Regions from separate parts of the Homo sapiens genome. Here region 1 is linked to region 2. Evidence: fine-mapped expression QTL. Tissue or cell type: lung. Region 2 holds a variant in brackets; the other region holds the start of a gene. All regions are shown on one strand. Distances are from middle to middle.

What was found. PIP is the estimated chance that this variant, and not a neighbour inherited with it, causes the effect.
Region 1: NYAP1 starts here. The variant in region 2 is fine-mapped to the expression of NYAP1 in lung (GTEx, PIP 0.94).

Annotation. Positions count from the first base shown.
Region 1 is chr7:100,480,368-100,488,539 of GRCh38, forward strand. NYAP1 (neuronal tyrosine phosphorylated phosphoinositide-3-kinase adaptor 1) reads left to right here and starts at 3,560. Exons shown (of 7, transcript NM_173564.4): 1 at 3,560-3,634; 2 at 4,861-5,012; 3 at 6,454-6,815; 4 at 7,785-8,172. The coding sequence starts at 4,945. RefSeq lists silencers at 2,896-3,285, 2,948-3,163, 3,336-3,605, 5,959-6,253 and enhancers at 3,855-4,381, 6,819-7,113.
Region 2 is chr7:100,525,540-100,533,711 of GRCh38, forward strand. It overlaps the pseudogene RN7SL416P. Among named protein-coding and RNA genes, the nearest start is that of AGFG2, 9.6 kb to the right of the region's middle. RefSeq lists an enhancer at 2,066-2,195 and a cis regulatory region at 7,794-8,138. The variant G/A (reference allele first, on the strand shown) is at 4,952.

The DNA of each region.
Region 1 (8,172 bases), 45 kb before region 2:
ACTCCAGCCTGGGCAACAGAGTGAGACCATGTCTCAAAAAAAAAAAAAAAGTGGATTATTATGAAAATTTTCAAACATGCCATGCAGACATGGGGAGACCATGCAAACTCCACACAGATGGTGGTCCCAGCCCAAAATCAATTTTTAGAAAATCATCAATGTTATAATGAAATGACATTCAATGAAATGACATTGTGTGGGGGCCAGCTGTAGTTTGCTGGACTATTTGAAATCAGATCCTAGATGTTATACTATTCCCCTTTCCCCCAACCTGCCCCCGCCTTTTTTTTTAGAGACAGGGTCTCTCTCTCTCTCTGTTGCCCAGGATGGAGTGCAGTGGTGCGATCATAGCTCACCACAGCCTGGAACTCCTGGGCTCAAGCCATGCTCCTGCCTCAGCCTCCCAAGTAGCTGGGACCACAGACACACACTACTACGCCTGGCTAAATTTCTTTAAAAAAAAATTTTTTTTTTTGGTAGAGATGGGGATCTTGCAATGTTGCCCAGGGTGGTCTTGAACTCCCGGCCTCAAGTGATCCTCCTGCTTCTGCCTCCCTAGTAGCTGGGACCACAGGTGTATACCACCATACCTGGCTAATTTTTTAGTTTTTGTAGAGACAGGTTATTACTATGTTGCCCAGGCTGGTCTCGAATTCCTGGCCTCAAATGATACTTCCACCTGGGCCTCCCAAAGAGCTGACATTACAGGCGTGAGCCATGGTGCCTGGCCTCAGGGAAATTTCTAACCCCTCTTTTTTTGAGACGGAGTCTCGCTCTGTCGCCCAGGCTGGAGTGCAGTGGCTCTATCTCGGCTCACTGCAAGCTCCACCTCCCGGGTTCACGCCATTCTCCTGCCTCAGCCTGTAGCTGGGACTACAGGCACCCGCCACCATGCCCGGCTAATTTTTTGTATTTTTACTAGAGACGGGGTTTCCCCGTGTTAGCCAGGATGGTCTTGATCTCCTGACCTCGTGATCCGCCCGCCTCGGCCTCCCAAAGTGCTGGGATTACAGGCATAAGCCACCACGCCCGGCCTCTAACCCCTCTTTAGGGGTACGTAAAAATAAAACAATGCAATACCTACCCTCTTTATGTATTTATTCTTTATCTCTTTGTTAGAAGCATCCACACTTCTGTTTCTCTCCCTTAAGCCATAGTAACAACGGCTGCCATAGCCCAAGTCTGTGGGCCTCCCAAGTAGTGAAGTCTGGGAAGCAGCCTCCCACCTGCTCCCTACCCCTCTAGACTGCATCCCTCTGTCCCTTACAGAACCTTTTCTCCTCTAGCAACATTCAGAACACAGCCTTGGTCCCTCCTTCCCCAGACCCTCCTTCCTTCTTGCTGACTTGCTACAAACTATTCAAAAATTATCTTTGGGCAGTCTCTTTCTCTGCCTCAGGCACTGGTATCTGAGTCTAGAGGCCCTGGCACATTGTTGATCTCTGCAGAAATGTTTGTTGAGTAAATACATACAAATTTTTATATTTTAATTTGAGATGAAGTCTTGCTCTGTCACCCAAGCTGAAGTGCAGTGGCGTGATCTCAGCTCACTGAACCTCCGCCTCCCAGGTTGTGATTCTCCTGCCTCAGCCTCCCGAGTAGCCAGGATTGTAGGCACCCGCCACGACGCCTGGCTAATTTTTGTAGTTTTAGTAGAGATGGGCGTCTCATCATGTTGGCCAGGCTGGTCTCGAACTCCTGACCTCAAGTGATCTGCATGCCTCAGACTCCCAAAGTGCTGGGATTACAGACGTGAGCCACTGCTCCCGGCCTATACATATAAACTAATCATACTAAAGGTATAAATGTGAAATGGGTTTTAAGTGTTTTAATATTTCCCTCCCCTGGGAGCATTCTTAATAGCCTATAATATGTGGGACCTTTTACAATTTACAAGGCACTTTGGTATTATTTTACTACCCCTCCCCTTCCAAAGAATGGACTAAAGCCAGCTTGTCCAACCGCACGGGCAGCTTGTGGCCCAAGACAAATTGGTAAATTTTCTTAAAACGCCTAAGTTTTGGTTTTTGTTTTTGTTTTCGTTTTTTTTTTTTTTTTCTCTGAGACAAAGTCTCTCTCTCTCACCCAGGCTGGAGTGCAGTGGCCCGATCTGGGCTCACGTCAACCTCTGCCTTCCAGGTCAAGCGATTCTCCTGCCTTGGCCTCCCGAGTAGCTGGGATTACAGGCGCAGGCCACCATGCCCAGCTTATTTTTTCTATCTTTAGTAGACACGGGGTTTTGCCACGTTGGCCAGGCTGGTCTCAAACTTCTGATGTCAGGTGATCCACCAGCCTCGGCCTCACAAAGTGCTGGGATTTACAGGCGTGAGCCACCGCGCCCCGCCAGTGTTAAGAGTATTTTATGTGTGGCCCAAGACAAATTCTTCTTCCAATGTGGCCCAGGGAAGTTAAAAGAGTGGACATCCCCGGACTAAAGCGTCTCTCAGAGAGGTTGCACGATCTGCCTAAAGCCACACAGCAAGACTGCAAAGACGCTGCCATGGAAAGTAGCATTCGCAGGCTCCAGGGATCAGGCCGTGCCTATCTTTGCCGTGCCCATTTTCCAGCCCGTGGAAGGTACAACCGAGGTCTTCTCGAGCTGATTTACCCCCGCTGCAGAGCTGTGAGCCCAAGGGATTTCAGAGGGAGTTATTTCTAGGGGAGATAATGAGAAAAGAAAAGATAAATGAGAAAAGGGGAGGTCGAGGTCACGTCCCGTAGCGGCCCCCCGACAGTGCCAGGGTGGTAGCCGCGGTGGCCACACTCAGGTCGACCCTGGTCGTTGCGAGCGGCGCCGGGGGAGTCAAAGGTCACGAGAGGAGGACTCGGGCCACGGGGGCGGATAGCTTTGAGCCCAGACGGTGGAACGAGATCCGGGCACCCCCGGGAGGCTGCAGGGGGAGGCAGCCGATTCCCCCGCGAGCCAACTCAGGTGCTCTCCTGGCACCTGGGGGCGGTGGGGAAAGGGGGCGCGGCCGCCGGAGCACGCCCCCTGCTGGGCTGAGCCGCCGCCCGTCCCGTTCCCCACCCTCGGAGCCCCTCGGCCCGGAAAGCGGCACCCCCTGGCGGCCCCAGCGCCTCACTGCACCCCGGGCCCCGCAGCCGCAGCCTCGGCCCCGGACCGACGCTGGGTGCGGACCCGGGGCGCGCCGGGCGTACGGGTTGCACGGGGTGCACGGGGTACACGGTGCGGGGGCGTGGGCCCCAGGCTGCCGCTGGGGGGCGCCGCCGCACGCCGCTCCGCCGGGGCCGGGGAGACCGAACTCAGCACCGACCGGCCGGGCAGGGGGCGAGGGGCGGCGAGGAGCGGACGCCCAAAGACCGCGACGGGCTGGCGCCGGGCCCCCAGCGCCCCACGACCTTCCTCCGAATCTGCCCCCGCAGGCTCCGCGGCTCCCCCGCCCCGCGCCCCAGCCCCACGGCCCCGCGCCGCACGGCCGCTCCCGTTCCGTCCTTGGAGGGTGTGGAAGGGTGGGTTTGGGGCCGGGGGCGGGTCTGGGGGCGGACCCGGAGGCGGGGCTGTCTCTGCGGCAGGGCCCAGCTTCGCTCCCCCCGGTCTGTCTCTGTCTCTCCTCCTCCCTCCTCCTGCTCCGGGCGGAGCCCGGCATGGGGGGGCCGGCGCCCGGCAGGCCAGGTACGGTGATGGAGAACCTGGGGAGGCTTGGTGCAGGAAGGTTGGGGTGGGGGGACAAGGGACAGGGAGGATTGGCGGAGCGAAAGGCGGAGAAGCCCAGGGTAGCAGGACAAGGGGAAGGGGAGGGGTGCCAGGAACCTGGGGCCCTTGGATGGAGAAGGGGGATGAAGCAGGCCAGGTTTGGAACAGGGGAAGGGGGAGGACGGCTGTAAGGAGGGGCGCCTGGGAGGAGAAGTGAGGCTGAAGGCGAAAAGAAGAGTGTGGGTTTGGGGGAAGGAAAACCGGAGCAGGTATGGAGGCCGCAGCCCAGAAGGTAGCAGTGGGGCCAGACTGGAGCCCCCCGGGTGGGATTGAGGGGCGGGGACTGGAAGAGGAAAACCAGGGGGCCTCCCAAATCCTGGAGGAAGAAGAAGGTGATTGGGGCCATCAGCGAGGGAGGGAGGCAGAGACTAAACCATTGCTAAAGGGCCAGGGAGCCAGAATCGGGGTGGACCAAGGCCCAGGCCCGGGGAAGGACTGGAAGTGGGGGAAGGCAGGCAGTGGAGATAGATGGATGGGTGGTATTTTAGATACCCAACTCAGGGTGTCTCCCATCCTTCCTTCAGCGTCCCCACCCTGCCCTCATGAGATCCCCCTACAGCCCAAGATAGGGGGGAGAGTCTGACCATCTCCCCTTTTCCCAGTGGGGTGCAATGTACGCAAGTAGGCCCTGGGCATAACTCTGCCTGTAGGTGTGTCCAGTTCTGTGTAGCAGATTTGTGTGTGTCTGGAGGTCTGTGGGTGTGTCTGTGGGTGTTTATGTCTGTGTGCCTGTCTATCCCTAGGTTTCTGTTTACCTATGCCAATCTCTGCGTCTGGTCCTCTGTCTGTAGATGTGGGTCGGTGGCTCCGTGGTTTGTGTGTCTGAATGTGTACTTGTGTAGCTGAGGGGTTGCAGTCCGTTTGTGGGGCCTGTATGGGTGGTGGATCGGGATGTCTTTACACAAGAAGGGAATCTGTGTTGACCTGGTCTCTCCAGAGTGTGTATTTGGGGCTCTGAACACCTTTGTCGGGGTCTGTGTCTGTCTGTCTGTGGGTCCTCGAAGCTGTGTTGGGTTTTCTGTCTGTGTTTTCCTCTCTGAGGACCCGAGTCATGTCTCTTCTCCGTTTTCTCTCTTTCATTCATCCCTGGCCCCCACCCATCCCACCTTTCTTTTTTTTCCGTTCTCACCCACCCCGCCCGCCAGTGGATCCGGGACCCAGGGAGGGCCGCCCCCCGGGCCTGGTGGCACTGAGCAGGGCCCCCCAGCCCCCACCTCCTGCCCCACGAGATGAACCTCCTCTACCGAAAAACCAAGCTGGAGTGGAGGCAGCACAAGGAAGAGGAGGCCAAGAGGAGGTAAGGCTGCACCCCAGACTGCTCCCTTCCCTTCCGCACCTCTGCCTGCCCCCTCACTGGGCCACAGCCCTTCTCGGGGGCCGGCAGCCTTGTCATGAGTGAGCTCTCTGATCTCAGAGTCAGTACGGAATGGCCAGGATTGCACACACTGTCCTGGCCCAACTCCTGCTCTCCTGTGGGGGGGTTTACAGCCTAGGAGCACCCCTTTGGTTGTTCCCCATCCCCAGAGGCCCGAGTCACTCCTTCCTGACTCACCTCTGGCCTGTAGCCCTTCTCCTTTCTGCAAATTTGGGGCTGGCTGCGGGCTCTCCTGTCACCTGACCTTGGAAGGGGCAGGCCCCGCCTCTCTCCCAGGGTCTAGGGAAGGGGTCATTTCAGGGGCATCAGAGAACATCCACTTGGCCTCCTCCCAGTTTTCCCTGCTGGGGGAGGTGAGTGGTCAAGTGATGGGGTTGTGTGTGTGGTGGGCAGACATGCAGGCTGGGCCTTGCCAAAGAGCCAGGGCAGGGGACGACCTCCAGACCCCTGCAATCCCTGTCTGCCTCCCCGCTTGCCCTTCCAGGGACCTGGGGCCTGGCCTCTCCCATCCTTCTCTCCTTCTCCTCTTCTCTCCCATTGACTTCACAGCCACTTGGAGCCTGACTCACAGCCACCTCCCTTTTCCTTCCTCGCAACTGTGGAGTTTAATTCTTGTTGTTAATTAGATTAATCAGAGTGATCGCTGCAGCGATCTCTCCCTAATGAAGGGCTAGTAGACAGGGCCTTAATGAGTGCCCACCCCACACAGCTCTCCTCTCTTCCCTGCCAGCCGCCCCCCCAACCCTCTGCCACCCTCCACTCAGACAGAAGCTCAGGGACAGTGGAATGGAATGGGGGTGAGCCGGGGAGGCTGACAGAGAGAGAACAGCACCAGGGGAGAGGGAGGAAGAAGGATGGGCCAGGGAGGGAGGCTGCTCTGGTCCTGGAGGGGCACATCCTGCATCTGGGAGAGGAGGTGTGCCGTGGGGGCAGAGGTCACAGTGGCTGGGCAGGAGGGGTAACCAGAGGCCAGGTGTGGGCCACTGTGAGAGTGAGAGGGGCCAAGGAGCTGTGGGGGGCAGGCGTGTCCATCTGTGTTACCTGGGTTTGTATCTCTACCTCTGCACAAGGCTGTCCACACAGGTGCCCAGGCTGGGATCCGCCAGCCCCAGGGATGCTCCCCTGCAGGCATACTCACCCCTCTTCTCATCCCTGCCCCCAACTGCCTTGTGTTTTTAAAGCCCAAGATTCTGCCTGAAGCCCCTTCATTGGTGCCCTGGACCTTCTGGCAACCCTGTCCCCACCCAGGCTCCCGTCCTCTTCCCTGGGAAGCCACAGGGTTGCTGACACCTCTTGGGGTGGAGAAGGGGGATGCCCAGGTCCGAGGCCCTTCCTCCACTCCATCGTGGCCTTCTCTCCCCAGCTCCAGTAAGGAGGTGGCCCCCGCTGGCTCGGCTGGGCCCGCGGCCGGCCAGGGGCCTGGGGTCCGCGTGCGGGACATCGCCTCGCTGCGGCGCTCCCTCAGGATGGGTTTCATGACGATGCCCGCCTCCCAGGAGCACACCCCGCACCCCTGCCGCAGCGCCATGGCCCCACGCTCCCTCTCCTGCCACTCGGTGGGCAGCATGGACAGTGTCGGGGGTGGCCCTGGCGGGGCCAGTGGGGGCCTCACAGAGGACAGCAGCACCCGAAGACCCCCTGCCAAGCCCCGGAGACACCCCAGCACCAAGCTCAGCATGGTGGGGCCTGGGTCTGGGGCAGAGACGCCCCCCAGCAAGAAAGCAGGTGAGATACCCCCTATCTCTCCCTGGGGTGGAGCTGGGAGCTGGGAGGATCTATTCCACGCCCGGGGAGGCTTGCCGGGAGGGTTCATTCAGGGAAGAACCAAGGAAGTGGAAGATTCCATTCTCAAAAGGAATTGGGGGGGTCCTTTTGGATGGGCCTGAGATGAACCATTCAAGGGCAGGGGACACTCCCTGAAAAGTTCTTGAGAAAGGGGTGGTGGCCTCAGAGGGACAATGAAGGTAGGAGCTGCGAATTCTGGAGAATACGTTAGAAAGACTGAGGGCTGTGGGACAAGCCCCGTGGCTCACGCCCGTAATCTCAGCACTTTTTTTTTTTTGAGACAGAGTCTCGCTCTGTTGCCCAGGCAGGAGTGCAGTGGTGCGATCTCAGCTCACTGCATCCTCCGCCTCCCAGGTTCAAGCAGTTCTCCTGCCTCAGCCTCCCAGGTAGCTGGGATTACAGGCGTCCGTCACCACGCCCGGCTAATTTTTTGTATTTTTAGTAGAGACAGGGTTTCGTCTTGTTGGCCAGGCTGACAAGGCCAGGCTTGCTGGCCTCAGGTGATCCACCCACCTCGGCCTCCCAGAGTGCTGGGATTACAGGCGTGAGCCACTGTGCTTGGCCAATTAATTGACGTTTTAAAAAGACCAAGGGCTGACTAGTAGAAAAGGAACCTACAGCTGGGCATGGTGGCTGATGCCTGGAATCCTAGCACTTTAGGAGGCCGAGGCAGGAGGATCCCTTGAGCCCAGGAATTTGGGACCAGTCTGGGCAACATGGCAAGACCCATCTCTATTAAAAAATAAAAAAGAAATGAAGAAACCTCCTGGGGCTGTAAGTTGAGGAATGTGGGGAAAAGGAAGAGGCAGATATGTCCTTGCAGAAGGGTCAAGGGATCAGAATGGGCTCCTCCCACTTGCTCCCCTCATTAAAAGCCTGGTTTATTTTTCTCTTTCTTGTCCTGTCCAGGCTCACAGAAGCCAACCCCAGAGGGCCGAGAGTCCAGCCGGAAGGTTCCTCCGCAGAAGCCCAGGCGAAGCCCTAACACCCAGCTCTCTGTCTCCTTCGATGAGTCCTGCCCCCCAGGCCCCTCTCCTCGAGGGGGGAACCTGCCTCTTCAGCGCCTCACTAGGGGGTCCCGAGTAGCTGGGGACCCTGATGTGGGTGCCCAGGAAGAGCCTGTGTACATTGAGATGGTGGGGGACGTCTTTAGGGGAGGAGGACGAAGTGGAGGAGGCCTGGCTGGGCCCCCTCTTGGGGGTGGGGGCCCGACCCCTCCAGCGGGCGCCGACTCGGACTCTGAAGAGAGTGAGGCCATCTATGAAGAGATGAAGTACCCGCTGCCGGAAGAGGCTGG
Region 2 (8,172 bases):
GTTTGCTTTTTTGAGACAGAATCTCGCTCTGTCGCCAGGCTGGAGTGCAGTGGCGCGATCTCGGCTCACTGCAACCTCTGCTTCCCAGGTTCAAGCCATTCTCCTGCCTCAGCCTCTGGAGTAGCTGGCACTACAGGCGCCCGCCACCATGTCCGGCTAATTTTTGTATTTTTAGTAGAGACGGGGTTTCACCATGTTGGCCAGGCTGGTCTCGAATTCCTGACCTCGTGATCCATCCGCCTCGGCCTCCCAAAGTGCTGGGATTATAGGCGTGAGCCACCGCGCCCAGCCGGTTCTTGGTTTTTATCAGTTATACCATGGCACTTCATAGGTCTTGTTTTTTAGTTTGTTTTTTTTTTTGTTTGTTTGTTTGTTTGTTTGAGGTGGTTTCACTCTTGTCACACAGGCTGGAGTGCAGTGGCGCAATCTCAGCTCACTGCAACCTCTCCTTCCTGGGTTCAAGCAATTCTCCTGCCTCAGCCTCCTGAGTAGCTGGGACCACAGGTGCACGCCACCACGGCAAGCTAATTTTTATACTTCTTTTTAAAAAAAGTAAAAAGACACAGTCTCGCTCTTTTGCCCAGGCTGGACTGCAGTGGCGCTATCTCGGCTCACTGAAAGCTCCGCCTCCCGGGTTCAAGCCATTCTCCTGCCTCAGCCTCTCGAGTAGCAGGCGCCCGCCACTGCACCCGGCTAATTTTTTGTATTTTTAGTAGAGACGGAGTTTCACCATGTTAGCCAGGATGGTCTCGATCTCCTGACCTCGTGATCCTCCCGCCTCGGCCTCCCAAAGTGCTGGGATTACAGGCGTGAGCCACCGCGCCCGGCCTAATTTTTATACTTTTAGTAAAGACCGGGTTTCACCATGTTGGCCAGGCTGGTCTGGAACTCCTGACCTCAGGTGATCCACCTGCCTCAGCCTCCCAAAGTGTTGGGATTACATATGTGAGCCACCACACCTGACTAAGGTCTTGTTAATCTAGAAACTCATGCCCTTTAATTCTGGAAAATTTTGCTAAATTTTTCAGTAATATTTTTCCCCTCCATTTTTCTCTTCTCTCCTTCTGTAACTTCTATTATTTATATATTAGATCTACTGAACTGTTCTTTTATTTACCTTTAATCATTTTTTTCATCTCATATTTTAAACTGCTTTTTGCAGGATTTCTCCAATTTTATCTTCCAACCATTCAACTGAGGTTTTCATGTTTATATATTTAATTTCCAGGATTTCTTTCTTGTTCTCTGAATATTCCTTTTTTTCTGTTTTTTTTTTTTTTTTTTTTTTTTTTTGACGGATTCTTGCTCTGTCACCCAGGCTGGAGTGCAATGCCATGATCTGGGCTCACGGCAACCTCCGTCTGCTGAGTTCAAGCAATCCTCCTGCCTCAGCCTCCCAAGTAGCTGGGATTACAGGCTCCCACTATCACACTCGGCTAATTTTTGTATTTTTAGTAGAGACGGGGTTTCGCCATGTTGACCAGGCTGGTTTCGAACTCCTGACCTCAGGAGATCCACCTGCCTCGGCCTCCCAAAGTGCTGGGATTACAGGCGGGAGCCACTGCACCCGGCCTGAATATTCCTTTTAAAATAACGTTCTGTGTATATTTCATGAAAATGGTATCTTATCTCTCCAAGGATATTAATTATAGTGGGTTTTGGGTAAAATTTTCTTCTCTTTACATAGTATCTGTTTCTTTCCAATTGCTTCTCTTTGTTTTTGTTTTTCTTTTTAAGACAGGCTCTTGCTCCTGGGCTGTGTGATCCTCCCACCTCAGCCTCCCAAGTAGCTGGTACTACAGGCATGTGCCACCACACTTGGCTAATTTTTTAATTTGTTAAAATTTTTGTAGAGATGGGGTCTCACTTGTTGTCGAGGCTCGTCTCAAACTACTGGGATCAAGCAATCCTCCTGCCTCAGCCTCCAAAGCTGAGATTACAGGTGTGAGCCACCATGCCCCGTTCTGTATATGCCACAATTTCTCTATCCACTCATCTGTCAATGGACATTTAGATTATTTCTACCTTTAGGCTATCATGGATGGTGCTGCTATGAACTTTCGTGTACAAGTTTTGATTTGAATAGCTGTTTTAAACTCCTTAGGGTATATAACTAGGAGTGAAACAGCTGAGTCATATAGTAATTCTATATTTAACTTTATTTTTTTTTGAGACAGAGTCTCACTCTGTCACCCAGGCTGGAGTGCAGTGGCATGATCTCGGCTCACTGCATCCTCTGTCTCCCTGGTTCAAGCAATTCCCCTGCCTCAGCTTCCCGAGTAGCTGGGATTACAGGTGTACACCACCACACCCGGCTAATTTTTTATTTTTATTTATTTTTTATTTTTTGTATTTTTAGTAGAGATGGGGTTTCACCATGTTGGCCAGACTGGTCTCAATCTCCTGACCTCAGGCAATCCGCCCGCCTTGGCCTCCTAAAGTGCTGGGATTACAGGCGTGAGCCACTGTGCCCGGCCTCTATATTTAACTATTTGAAGAACTGGTAAACTGCTTTCCATGGCAGCTGCACCATTTTTCATTTCCACCAGCAATGTACAAGGGTTACAATTTCTCTACATCCTCACCAACAATTGCTAGTTTTCCCTTTTTTGATTACAGCCATCCTAGTGGATGTGAAGTGGTATCTCATCCATGGCTTTGATTGCATTTCCTAATGACTAATGATGTTGAGCATCTTTTTGTGTGCTTATTGGCCATTTGTGTATCTTCTTTGGAGAAATGTCTGTTCAAGTCCTTTGTCCCTAACTCCCGCTTTGTTCAAGGGTCAACTGTAATTGCAAAATCCAATGTCATGAAGCTCTTGCCCTATGGTTTATTCTAAATCTTTCTTAGTTTTAGGTCTGACATTTAGGTCTTTTATCCATTTTGAGTTAATTTTTGTATATGGTGTTAGGTAAGAGTTCCACTTCATTCTTTCACATGTAGATATGCAGTTATCCCAATACCATTTGTTGAAAAGACAGGTTTTTTTTGTTTTGTTTTGTTTCGTTTTTTTGAGATGGAGTATTGCTCTGTCGCCCAGGCTGGAGTGCAATGGCACAATTTAGGCTCACTGCAACATCCGCCTCCCTGGTTCAAGTCATTCTCCTGCCTCAGCCTCCCGAGTAGCTGGGAAGACAAGCACGTGCCACCACACCTGGCTAATGTTTGTATTTTTTTTTTTTTTTTTTTTTTTTTTTTTTTAGTAGAGACGGCGTTTCAGCACGTTGGCCAGGCTGCTCTTGAACTCCTGACCTCAAATGATCCACCCACCTCGGCCCCGCAAAGTGCTGGGATTACAGGCATGAGCCACCACACCCGAGCCTATATGTCTGTCTTTATGCCAGTACCATGCTGTTTTGATCACATGGCTTTGTAATAAGTTTTGAAATCAAGAAGTGTGAGTCCTCCAATTTTGTTAGTCCCTTTTTTTTTTTTGAGATGGAGTTTCGCTCCTGTTGCCCAGGCTGGAGTGCAATGGCACGATCTTGGCTCACTGCAACCTCCGCCTCCTGGGTTCAAGTGATTCTCCTGCCTCAGCCTCCCGAGTAGCTGGGATTACAGGCATGCACCACCATGCCCGCCTAATTTTGTGTATTTTTAGTAGAGATGGGGTTTCACCATGGCCAGGCTGGTCTTGAACTCCTGACCTCAGGTGATCTGCCCACCTCGGCCTCCTAGAGTGCTGGGATTACAGGCGTGAGCCACCATGCCCAGCCTGTTAGTCTTTTTGAATAGTGTTTTGGCTATTTGGAGTCCGCTGAGATTTCATAGAAATTTTAGCATGGGCTTTTCTATTTCTGCAGAACACATCATTGGAATTTTGATAGAGATTGCACTGAATCTGTAGATCACTTTGTTGGTTTTTGTTTGTTTGTTTGAGACGGAGTCTCGCTCTGTCACCCAGGCTGGAGTGCAGCGGTGCGATCTCGGCTCACTGCAACCTCCTCCTCCTGGGTTCAAGTGATTCTCCTGCCTCAGCCTTCTGAGTAGGTGGGATTACAGGTGCATGCCACCATGCCTGGCTAATTTTTGTATTTTTAGTAGAGACGGGGTTTCTCCATGTTGGCCAGGGTGGTCTCGAACTCCTGACCTCAGGTGATCCGCTTACCTACTCCTCCCAAAGTGCTGGGATTACAGGAGTGAGCCACTGAGCCTGGCTCTAAATCTGTAGATCACTTTGGTTAGTATTCACATCTTAACAATATTAACTCTTCCAATTCATGAACTGGGATGTGTTTCCATAAATTTTTGTCTTCTTTAATTTCTTTCAGCAATGTTGTATAGTTTTCATTTTACAAGTCTTTCACCTCCTTAATTTAATTAGGGTTAAATTAATCCCTAAGTATTTTATTCTGTGTGATGCTATTGTAGATGTAATTGTTTTTATGTTTTGTGGGGTTTTTTTGTTTGTTTGTTTGTTTGTTTTTTGAGATGGAGTCTCACTCTGTCACCCAGGCTGGAGTGCAGTGGCACGATCTCTGCCCACTGCAGCCTCCACCTCCCAGGTTCAAGCCATTCTCCTGCATCAGCCTCCCAAGTAGCTGGGACTACAGGCGTGGGCCACTACACCCAACTAATTTTTGTATTTTTTTTTAGTGGAGTCGAGGTTTCCCCATGTTGGCCAGTCTGGTCTCGAACTCCTGACCTCAAGTGATCTGCCCGCCTTGGCCTCCCAAAGTGCTGGGATTACAGAGGTGAGCCACCACACCTGGCCAATGTAATTGTTTTTGTAATTTCCTTTTGACATTGCTCATATTTAATATATAGAAGTGCAACCAACGTTTGTGTGAGTCTAATGCCCTTTTTTTTTTTTTAATTTAGAGACGGGTCTCACTATGTTGCCCAGGCCGTAGTACAGTGACTATTCACAGGCGTGACTCCACTGCTGATCAGCACAGGAGTTTTGACTTGCTCCATTTCCAACCTGGGCAGGTTCAACCCTCCTTAG[G/A]CAACCTGGTGGTCCCTCGCTTCTGGAAGGTCAGCACATTGTTGTTGAACTTAGGGCAGACACCCAATCAGCAGAGCACACTACAACCCAGGACTTCTGGACTCAAGCAATCCTTCTGCCTCAGCCTCCTGAATAGCTGTGACTACAGGTGCACACCACCATATCTGGCTCTAATGTCTTTTAAAACTGACATTTAGGCAGGGCACAGTGGCTCACGCCTGTAATCCCAGCACTTTGGGAGGCTGAGGCAGGTGGATCACGAGGTCAGGAGTTTGAGACCAGGCTGACCAACATGGCGAAACCTCGTCTCTACTAAAAATACAAAATTAGCTGGGTGTGGTGGCGGGTGCCTGTAATCCCAGCTACTTGGGAGGCTGAGGCAGGAGAATCACTTGAACCCCAAAGGTGGATGTTGCAGAGAGCAGAGATCGTGCCATTGAACGCCAGCCAGGGCAACAAGACCAAAACTCCATCTCAAAAAAAATTTTTAAAAATAAAATAAAATAAAATAAAATAAAATAAAATAAAATAAAATAAAACTGATTTTCAGTCAATATACTTATTTTTAACCTCTACCTTTACCCCAGATGTATTATACCTGTTGCCACCAATTCCTGAGGGGGCCACCTGAAGTTGTCTCACAGCTCACTGGTGTTCTGTTCATCTGTGGGTTTTGGGTTTTTATCAGTCTTTTTTCATTTTTCCAATATTTTAAAAAATAAGAGACAGGGTCTCGCTATGTTGCCTAGGCTGGTCTCAAACTCCTGGGCTCAACTGATCTTCCAGCCTCAGCCTCCCAAGTAGCTGGGATTATAGGTGCACACCACTGTGCCTAGCTCTATAAATCATTTTTATACTTTCTACTGTTATGTCTTCAAGTTCATAATATTCTCTTCTGTAGTATCTAGTCTGCTGTTAGTCCCATTCACTGTACTTTTCATCTCAGACATTCCAGATTTCATTTCTGGAGGATAGACTTGGGCATTTTTACTTTTTATTTATTTATTTATTTATTTTTTGAGACAGAGTCTCTCTTTGTCACCCAGGCTGGAGTGTAGTGAAATGATCTTGGCTCACTGCAACCTCCACCTCACTGATTCAAGTGATTCTCGTGCCTCAGCCTCCTGAGTAGCTGGAATTACAGGTGTGTGCCACCACGCCTGGCTAATTTTTATATTTTTAGTAGAGACGGGGTTTCACCATGTTGGTTGGCCAGGCTGGTCTTGAACTCCTGACCTCGTGATCCGCCCGCCTCGGCTTCCCAAAATGCTGGGATTACAGGCATGAGCCACCGCACCTGTGTGAAAGAGGAAGTTTCTAAATTAGTCCAGGTTACAAAGCAAGATGCCCTTATGGCTTGGCTAATCCAGTGGTGCCAGAGGGGTCTAGCCCACTCAACCTTTGCCATGCCCAGTAGACAATCTCCCTGGAGGCCTCTGGGGTGTTGAAACAAGACCACATTTCAGCAGATAATTATTCTTCTTCCGGGGAACATCTCCTAACTTGTTCCTGAAATTTAGTGTAAATATCTGGGATACAAAGTTACCATAGGATGGGCACATGGCTTATGCCTGTAGTCTCAGCAATTTGGGAGGCCGAGGCGGGTGGATTACTTGAGGTCGGGAGTTTGAGACCAGCCTGGCCAACATGGTGAAACCCGTCTCTACTAAAAATAGAAAAATTAGCTGGGCGTGGTGACAGGTGCCTGTAATCCCAGCTACTTGGGGGGCTGAGGAGGGAGAATCGCTTGAACCCATGAGGCGGAGGTTGCAGTGAGCTGAAATCATGCCACTGCATTCCAGCCTGAGTGACAGAGTAAGACTCCATCTCAATACACACACACACACACACACACATACACACACACACAAAACAAACAAACAAAACCAAGTTACCATGGGCTGGCCACAGTGGCTCACGCCTATAATTAATCCCAGCACTTTGAGAGGCCAAGGTGAGCAGATTGCTTGAGCACAGGAGTTCGAGACCAGTCTGGGAGACATGGTGAAACTCTCTCTTTACAAAAAATAAAAAAGCTAGCCAGGCATGGTGGTGTGCGCCTGTAGTCCCACCTCCTGGGGAGGCTGAGGTAAGAGGATCGCTTGAACCGAAGAATTAGAGGCTGCAATGAGCTATGACGGTGCCACTGCATTGCAGGCTGGGCAACAGAGCAAGACCCTGTGTCAAAAAAAAAAAAAAAAAAAAAGAAAGAAAGAAAGAAAAGAAAAACAAGACAGTTGGCCAGCCATGGGCCCCATTATCCTATTTCCCATGTACCAGAAACAGCTGGCCTTGTAGAACAATGAACTGGTGTACCAAAAACAAATCTAGCCAGTATCCACGAGACCACACTTGTGAGGCTGCAACGCTCCCTCGCTGATAGTGATATGTGATCCTCACAGTGACTGAATTGCAGCGCCCAGTCTTCCTCAGTCAATAGAGAGGTCCAGAAACCAAGGGTTGCAGTTAAGGGGGACAGTGGGGAGTAGCTGTCACTATTATTTTTCTCTCTAAAATTTTTTTGCTGGCCGGGCACGGTGGCTCATGCCTGTAATCCCAGCGCTTTGGGAGGTGGAAGCAGCTGGATCACTTGAGGTCAGGAGTTTGAGACCAGTCTCGCCAACATGGTGAAACCCCGTCTCTACCAAAAATACAAAAATTAGCCAGGCATGGTGGTGGGCGCCTATAATCCCAGCTACTCGGGAGGCTGAGGCAGGAGAATTGCATGAACCCGGGAGGTTTCAGTGAACTGAGATCGCGCCACTGCACTCCAGCCTGGGCAACAAGAGCAAAACTCCGTCTCAAAGAAAAAAAAAAAGATATTTGCTTTCCACGCCCCAAGTCACTCATGCTCTGTGGTTTAACTGCCCAAGGGCAAGGTTCTTGCCAGGGAACCCAATAAGAGTTCTACCTGGTTATTTAGGACTCCTCCTGCCACCAGGGCAAAAGGTCTCCCCATGCTGGCTGTGCTCCCCCTGATTATGAAGGGAAAATGGGAGTGTTGCTCCCCAGTATGACCTGGGTGGAGTAGAGATGGGAGGAGGGTGAGCTCCTCAACGGCCCTCACACCACCACACCCAGTGGCAAAAATCAGCAGAAAACCATCACTATCTACATGAACGTTCTAATTTTTTTCACTCACTATTGGTGGTAGTTAAATTTACCAATTTGCTCAAAGTTGCAAGATGATAAGAAATAACCCTTGGCTCAGCTGGGCACGG